Linked DNA regions of Homo sapiens: all the other regions are linked to region 1. Evidence: fine-mapped expression QTL. A gene starts in region 1. Each other region holds a variant in brackets. All regions are shown on one strand. Distances are from middle to middle. Region 1 holds the start of NIPSNAP3B (nipsnap homolog 3B). Region 2 overlaps ABCA1 (ATP binding cassette subfamily A member 1). Region 3 overlaps LOC107987105 (a long non-coding RNA gene).

Region 1 (2,766 bases):
AAAAGGTTCCTAAAAAAACAGGAAGGGCTATTCAGGTCAAAGTATTTCCTGAATCTACTGATGAAGACTACCGGTCAAAAACAGGACTGGAATGTAACTAATATAAAAGGAAGCTATAACTTATCCAATTGCATTGTACTATGGGTGTATACTGCATAAAGGCTGAAAAGGAAAAAAACTCAACAAATGAGAATTGTCTCCATCATTGTTTCTAATTACAGATGCAATATCAAGAAGTATGTACATTTAGTGCACTCAATTATACCAAGTTTATGGAACTATCCTTTAAGAACCACCCTTTGTAATAGTCATATGCCCAATGGGTAAATTTTCTGTCCTAATCTGGCCCTCTGAGCCTGAGTGAGCTTAATGTTCAGTAGCAAATGCCCTGTCAGAAATTATCCAGTCTGTCTGTATGTACGTACATGCAAATATTTATGTAAACACACGTGTATACACAGACCACTCCCGTGGCATTCTAGTTTACAAATCCATTCATTTAGGCATGGTTAGCATGTGACAATTTCCTGAGGCTCACTACCCAGAATAATCTATCGCAACAGTTTCAGTAGGCATCTTTCACTGACATATTTTTGGTTACAACATGCAAATGTCTATGTAGTTTGTGTGCATAACGTCTTAATTATAATTGTCTATCTTGAGTTCATTCATCTCCAGTATGAGTTATGCCCTTATTGCCCAAGTGTCTTAGTTTTCTTAGAAAACCCTTCTTCATACCAAAAAATACCTGCAACTATCCTTTCTTTTGATGGCCATTCTTTTTGGGTCAGTTTAATCAAATTCTGAAAATAAAAAACTGCTTAGTATCTACAGTTTAAAAATATTATTATCTCGGAAAATGGGCCAATGAGGTATTTCTAATAACTGCTTTTAAAGTTGATTTTCGGAGATTTGTATCTGGAGATGTTATCCTAAAAAAACGCAACAGCTGGCGCCACGGGGGTGTCCCGGGAGTTGTGGCATTTAGGCTAGAAACAGCTGGCATCAGGCTGGGCACAGTGGCTCATGCCTGCAATCCAGCACTTTGGGAGGCCAAGGTGGGCGGATCACGAGGTCAGGAGTTCGAGACCAGCCTGACCAACATGGTGAAACCCCCGACTCTACTAAATAGTAAACACAAAAAAAATTAGCCGGGCGTGGTGGCTGGCGCCTGTAATTCCACCTACTCCGGAGGATGAGGCAGGAGAATCGCTTGAACCCGGGAGGCGGAGGTTGCACTGAGCCGAGACTACGCCACTGCACTCCAGCCTGGGCGACAGAGCGAGACTCCGTCTCAAAAACAAAAACAAAAATCACAAAAACACTGGCATCCAGTTAGAAAACCCCTCTGACAGCGACTGCCAGCGAGACGACCCCGGCCTGTAGCCTCCTCCTTGCGCGCCAGACGGCTCCAGAGACCGCGTTAGAACTTCGGCGGCGGCGCGGGGCCCCAGGTCTGGGAGCGCCTGAGCGTGGCTCGCACGCTTCAGAAATACCCCCCGCCCCTCCCCTCCCCTCCGGCCAGGGCTCGGGCGCGCCCCCGCGGCCAGTACCTGAGGCGCGAGCGTCCGTGAGGCAAGCGCCTTGGTCAGGCCGCTTCTGAGAACGAGCATGGCGCGGCTTCGGCACTGAGAAAAGCAGCCAGCCGAGTCCTTTGTGAGACTTCTCTGAAGTCTTCCCGAGTGGAAAAAAGCGGCTCCTGGACCACTGGCGAACTCAGGCAGGGGCGGGACTCGGCGGGGTCAGCTCCACCCCGGCGCGGGAGGCGCGACAGGTCCCGCAGTTGGCGTCTTTCTCTTCGGCGCTGAGCCTCGGTCCCCCTTGGTTTCCTGAAACGTTCTTGCCCCAGACGTTAGAGGTGACAGAATTAGCTGAAGGCTGGGATCGTTCCTGCCCCACCTTTCTGGGCCCTGACCTCATTCGCTCCGATGCGCAGTTGTGTAGATTCGTAAATGTGCGGCGGTTGTGCTTGTGTTGCCCCTGGAGAAGGAAGGGGAGGTGTTCAGCGTGTGCATGTGCAGTGCTTTGCATTTAAAGTCGAGATGTTGACAGGGTTAACTTGTTTCTTTGTTTGAGACGTAGTCTTGCTCTGTCGCCCAGGCTGGAGTGCACTGGCGCGATGTCGCCTCACTGCAAGCTCCGCCTCCCGGGTTCACGCCATTCTCCTGCTTCAGCCTCCCCAGTAGCTGGGACTACAGGCGCCCGCCACCACGCCCCGCTAATTTTTGTATTTTTTAGTAGAGACGGAGTTTCACCATATTGGCCAGGCTGGGACAGGGTTAACTTTTACAGGTTGTGATAGACGTGTATTTGTAGACCAGTGAGCCTTCGCTTTTCTGCATTATCTGTCCCCATTGCCACCCCACTGTGATCTTGGAAGGCTCCTAATAAAGATTTAATTTTCCATGAGCTCAGTGGAATAGCAGCACCGAGCCTGATAGGAAAAAGTCGAAGTTAAACATAGATAGTTTGAAACTAGATCGTTCTGTAAGCCTTAAGAGCAAAACAGCCGACCTCTGGTCTAGTCCTCCCAGTCCCAGAGTACTGGTCCCCAGACTAACCACCTTCAACATTTTAAGCTGTTCTTCTAATACCTGTTTCCGTATGTTTTTTATTTTTTTGAGACAGAGTCTTGCTCTGTCGCTCAGGCTGGGGTGCAGTGGCATGATCTTGGCTCACTGCAACCTCCGCCTCCCGGTTTCAAGAGATTCTCCTGCCTCAGCCTCCTGAGTAGCTGGAATTACAGGCGCACGCCACGACACCTGG
Region 2 (2,766 bases), 47 kb before region 1:
ATTACCTGCAATACAGGGTTGTTACGAAAATAAAAATGAATAGGTGCTTAGAATGGGGCCTGACATTAGTAAGTGCTTAGTTTTGTGTGTGTATATGTTATTTTTATTTTGGAGGAGAACATAAAAAGGACAAAGTGTAGAAAAACTGGTTGGGTGTATTCAGCTGTCATAACATGAGAGTTGTTATGCCCAGATGCACTTGACATGTGAATTTATTAGAAACATGATTTTTCTCTGAGTTGATGTTTAACTCAAACTGATAGAAAAGATAGGTCAGAATATAGTTGGCCAACAGAGAAGACTTGTTAGACTATTGTCTGCATGTCAGTGTTTGCATGCTAACTTGCTTAGTTAGAAAGGTTAAATTTTTTCACTCTATAAAATCAAGAAATATAGAGAAAAGGTCTGCAGAGAGTCTTTCATTTGATGATGTGGATATTGTTAAGAGCGGGAGTTTGGAGCATACAGAGCTCAAGTTGAATCCTGACTTTGCTACTTATTGGCTATATGACCTTGGGCAAGCTGCTTAGTCTCTCTGATCCTCAGTTACCTTTGTTTGTTGATGATGACCATTGATAACACAACCATAAATAATGACAACATAGAGATAGTTCTCATTATAGTAGTTGTTATACAGAATTATTCACTCAATGTTAATTTTCTGCATTGAAATCCCAGAACATTAGAATTGGGGGCATTATTTGAATCTTTAAGGTTATAAGGAATACATTTCTCAGCAATAAATGGAAGGAGTTTTGGGTTAACTTATAAAGTATACCCAAGTCATTTTTTTTTCAGAGAAGATATGGTAGAAAGTCTTAGGAGGTTGAAGAAGGAATTGGATATTTATTCTTTCTGAGACTATCATGGGAGATAATGACTATGGTTGTCCATGATTGGAGCCGTTGCTGTAGAGTTGGTTTTATTATAGTGTAGGATTTGAATGGGCCATGTGTTCTCAGACCTCAGATTAAAATGAGAAAACTGAGGCCAGTGGGGAGCGTGACTTCACATGGGTACACTTGTGCTAGAGACAGAACCAGGATTCAGGACTTCTGGCTCCTGGTCCTGGGTTCATGGCCCAATGTAGTCTTTCTCAGTCTTCAGG[A/G]GGAGGAAGGGCAGGACCCAGTGTTCTGAGTCACCCTGAATGTGAGCACTATTTACTTCGTGAACTTCTTGGCTTAGTGCCTCTGCCAGGTGGCCATAACCTCTGGCCTTGTGTTGCCAGAGAAAAGGTTTAGTTTTCAGGCTCCATTGCTTCCCAGCTGCCAAGAATGCCTTGGTGCAGCACAGTCATAGGCCCTGCATTCCTCATTGCCGTGCTGGTTGGTCGGGGAGGTGGGCTGGACTCGTAGGGATTTGCCCCTTGGCCTTGTTTCTAACACTTGCCGTTTCCTGCTGTCCCCCTGCCCCCTCCACTGCCTGGGTAAAGATTGTCTTGCCAGCTGTGTTTGTCTGCATTGCCCTTGTGTTCAGCCTGATCGTGCCACCCTTTGGCAAGTACCCCAGCCTGGAACTTCAGCCCTGGATGTACAACGAACAGTACACATTTGTCAGGTATGTTTGTCTTCTACATCCCAGGAGGGGGTAAGATTCGAGCAGACCAAAGATGTTTACGAGGGCCAAGGGAATGGACTTCAGAATTACACGGTGGAATGAATTTTACTGCTGCGGCTCAGGTCCCTGTATAAGCTAATACTGCATGCATAGAACAGCAGCGAACTAACCCTGAATAATAGGCCAGTCTTCTGTTGAGCCTTTCAGCCTCTCTCCTCTTCATCCTACTGTTGTCAGGAACAGCCACATGTGTTTTAGGTGAAATAATCCACCCTTGCAAAAATCCATGATTAAGTTATAAAATATTTGGATTTGTGGAGCTGTGTTTTAATTCTGTAACTGAGTCACAGGGCACACTGTCAAAGCATAGAACCTCCAGAGACTTGTTTTCTGCAAAGTATAATTCATGTAATTATTATCTATTCTGTTATATTTGGGATGTTAGGTAGTGTTTGTTCTTTAGATAAAAATATCCCCCACTCTGTAACAATACATTAAATCAAAGAAAAGGACAAAGGATTTTTCTGGGTCTTGTTAGCAGGAGCTTTCTTCAGTCCTGAAAGATTTGTAGACCTGTAGATGGGGGAACTGTGTCAGTGATACAAAAGGGAAGCATTTAAAAAAAAAAAAGTATATATATATATATATATATATATATGTAATGTGAATTGGCCTCTTTTTCTCTAAGCCCACATTTTCTTCTTACATAGTTCAGGTTTACTTTATTTTTTCCTTTCCGGCTGCTGACCCTGTATTGCCCGTAGTTGTGGAACATAGCATGTGTTTGTGACCTGTGCCTGTTATTTTTGTGCTTTCTAGTTGTGCATGCAAAGAGTACAAAGTTTTCTTGCCCTTTCTTGGAAAATCCTGCTTGTCTGTGCCAAAGGGATAATTGTGAAAGCACTTTTGAAATACTTAATGAGTTGATTTTCTTCAAATTAAAAAAAATATATAAATGTATATGTGTATGTACATGTGTGTACACATACACACCTTTATACATACAGCCCATTTAAAACAAGCTCCACTTTGGAGTGCTCTACGTCACCCTGATGCCGAATACAGGGCCAGAGTCTGAGATCCTTCTGGGTGGTTTCTGTGTTTTGTTCATTTCTGTTTTAAGAGCCTGTCACAGAGAAATGCTTCCTAAAATGTTTAATTTATAAAAACATTTTTATCTCTCGATTACTGGTTTTAATGAATTACTAA
Region 3 (2,766 bases), 150 kb after region 1:
GAGGGAATTCCAATATTTTTCCAAGTCTTAGAAGAATGTCCAAGCTCTTAATTTTTAGTACAAATACTATTCATGTCTTGTCTCTGTTACTAACCAGCTTAATTTGAGGAAGAAGAGGATTGGGGAATGTCAGACATTATCTTGCTTTTCCTTGGTTTTTACGTCAACATTTTACTCTATGTGAAGAACATTTTAAATTTACAGCCCAAGATGAATGATGAAGTGTGTTCAGGAGTGAACCACCTTCTAGGTAATCAGTTTAGCTGAAGCAATTTTTATTAATGGACCAGTGAATTTAGAGTATATTGGGCATAAACATATTTTACGTAGACAAGTAAGAATTACCTGCTTGTGGAATCTTTGGGTTTAGTCACTCGTTTAATCTTCCCAAGTTCACTTGTTAATTTTAGTGGAAAGAATATTAAACAGTCACAAACTATATTTAAATATATCCATCATAGTTGTTTACAGATTAAATCTGATGGCAAGAGTTGAAATTATTGATAATTAAATTTACATCCTGACAAAATGGGCTGTGAAAATCTATTAGTTCCCATACACGAGTTCATTGGACTTTTTGCACCCACTAAGAATTCCTGGTAGGTAGAAAACTCCGGAAGTCAGGCATTTTATGTTTGACTCATAGTCAGGTTGTCTTGAATGCTCAAATGCTAATTTTGTTTTCCTTCACAACTTAAATCCAGCCACTTTGATAAATTCTCTGGGATGACTCAGGTGGCTCCATAGTGTTACATCAGATTTATACCATTTTTTATTATTATACTCTAAGTTATAGGGTACATGTGCGCAATGTGCACGTTTATTACATAGGTATACATGTGCCATGTTGGTTTGCTGCTCTCATCAACTCGTCATTTACATTAGGTATTTCTCCTAATGCTATTCCTCTCCCAACACCCTACCCCCCGACAGGCCCCAGTGTGTGATGTTCCCCACCCTGTGTCCAAGTGTTCTCATCGTTGAATTCCCACCTATGAGTGAGAACATGTAGTGTTTGGTTTTCTGTCCTTGTGATAGTTCACTGAGAATGATGGTTTCCAGCTTCGTCCATGTCCCGGCAAAGGACATGAACTCATCCTTTTTTATGGCTGCATAGTATTCCATGGCATATATGTGCCACATTTTCTTAATCCAGTCTATCATTATGGACATTTGGGCTGGTTCCAAGTCTTTGCTATTGTGAATAGTGCCGCAATAAACATAGGTGTTCATGTGTCTTTATAGTAGCATGATTTATAATCCTTTGGGTATATACCCAGTTATGGGATCACTGGGTCTAATGGTATTTCTAGTTCTAGATCCTTGAAGAATCTCCACACTGTCTTCCACAATGGTTGAACTAGTTTA[C/G]AGTCCCAACAGTGTAAAAGCATTCCTATTTCTTCACATCCTCTCCAGCACCTGTTTTTTCCTGACTTTTTAATGATCACCATTCTAACTGGCGTGAGATGGTAACTTATTGTGGTTTTGATTTGCATTTCTCTGATAACCAGTGATGATGAGCATTTTTTCATGTGTCTGTTGGCTGCATAAATGTCTTCTTTTGAGAAGTTTCTGTTCATATCTTGCCCACTTTTTGATAGGGTTGTTTGTTTTTTTCTTGTAAATTTGTTTAAGTTCTTTGTAGATTCTGGATATTAGAGATTTATACATTTTTGATAGAAAATTAATTAAAGGAAGAAGAAATTTTAAAGCACACATTTCTCCTTACAGGAGAATATTAGGAGAGTTTTTCTCTCACAGGGTTGTAGAATCAAGGTCTGAAGAAAATAAAGGCATGTTAACTGTCTTGATATATTTATGTGTTCAAATTTGCTGGGCAAAATACACAATCATTATAATACTGACATAATGCTTTATTTTAATACTTGAGCCTCTAGAGGAGTTTTCATTCAGAAATTTTATTTTAAAAGCTTATGGAGGATCATTTTGTTGTTAGCAATTTGTTTTTTCTAATTTGGAGACAAAGTAAGATAAACTTATCTGATATAACAGTCATGTATCTCTGTGTGTGTGTGTGTGTGTGTGTGTGTGTGTAGTGTGTGTGTGTGTTTGTAGTGTGTGCGTGTTCCTGTGATTTTTCTACCAGACAGCAAAATCTACCATTTCTACCAGATAGCAAAATCTGCCATTTCTACCAGATAGCAAAAATTTCTACCAGATAGCAAAATCTACAATTCTTAGTGTAACTGAAGAAGCAAGCCACACCCCCATCACATGCTCTGCCAGGGGGATAAGGGAATTTTTCCTGTTTCACTTCCATAGCACACTAAGCCATCACTTTAATCACAGCTTTCACCACTTTGTATTGAAATTCACTAATTACATGAATGTTTTTCTTACTAACTATATGATTCTTGAAGGTGAGGACTGTGTCTGAGGCATTTTTATATTTGCAGATGTTCTTTCTACAAGTTTCATAGAGTATATATATATAATACATTTCATGTAAACAAGTGATTTAAAAATGTAAAATTGTGACTGTTATCATTAATTGATATATCTTTATCCTATTTGATACTTTGTTATTAGCTGAAAAGAATATTTAAGAAACCAGTGTAAAAATGTAAAATACACAATAGAAAAATGAATAGAGGACATGAGTGCACAACTCACATGAAAGAAAATAAAACTCTTTAAGACACACCAAAATGTAAATAGTAAATATCTATAAAGATTAAAATGCCATTTACAATAATGACAAGATACCATTTTAAGCCCTTTAGATTAGATTGAAAATCTAAATTA

Evidence for each region.
Region 2: its variant is fine-mapped to the expression of NIPSNAP3B in pancreas (GTEx, PIP 0.96).
Region 3: its variant is fine-mapped to the expression of NIPSNAP3B in stomach (GTEx, PIP above 0.99).

Annotation. Positions count from the first base shown.
Region 1 is chr9:104,763,088-104,765,853 of GRCh38, reverse strand. NIPSNAP3B (nipsnap homolog 3B) reads right to left here and starts at 1,725. Exons shown (of 6, transcript NM_018376.4): 1 at 1,554-1,725. The coding sequence starts at 1,613. RefSeq lists silencers at 1,410-1,599, 1,797-1,996.
Region 2 is chr9:104,809,591-104,812,356 of GRCh38, reverse strand. It overlaps ABCA1 (ATP binding cassette subfamily A member 1), which reads left to right. Exons shown (of 50, transcript NM_005502.4): 29 at 1,433-1,557. Among named protein-coding and RNA genes, the nearest start is that of NIPSNAP3B, 47 kb to the right of the region's middle. RefSeq lists an enhancer at 1,235-1,529. The variant A/G (reference allele first, on the strand shown) is at 1,109.
Region 3 is chr9:104,613,678-104,616,443 of GRCh38, reverse strand. The region is part of intron 3 of LOC107987105 (a long non-coding RNA gene); the gene reads left to right. Among named protein-coding and RNA genes, the nearest start is that of OR13C9, 3.1 kb to the left of the region's middle. The variant C/G (reference allele first, on the strand shown) is at 1,369.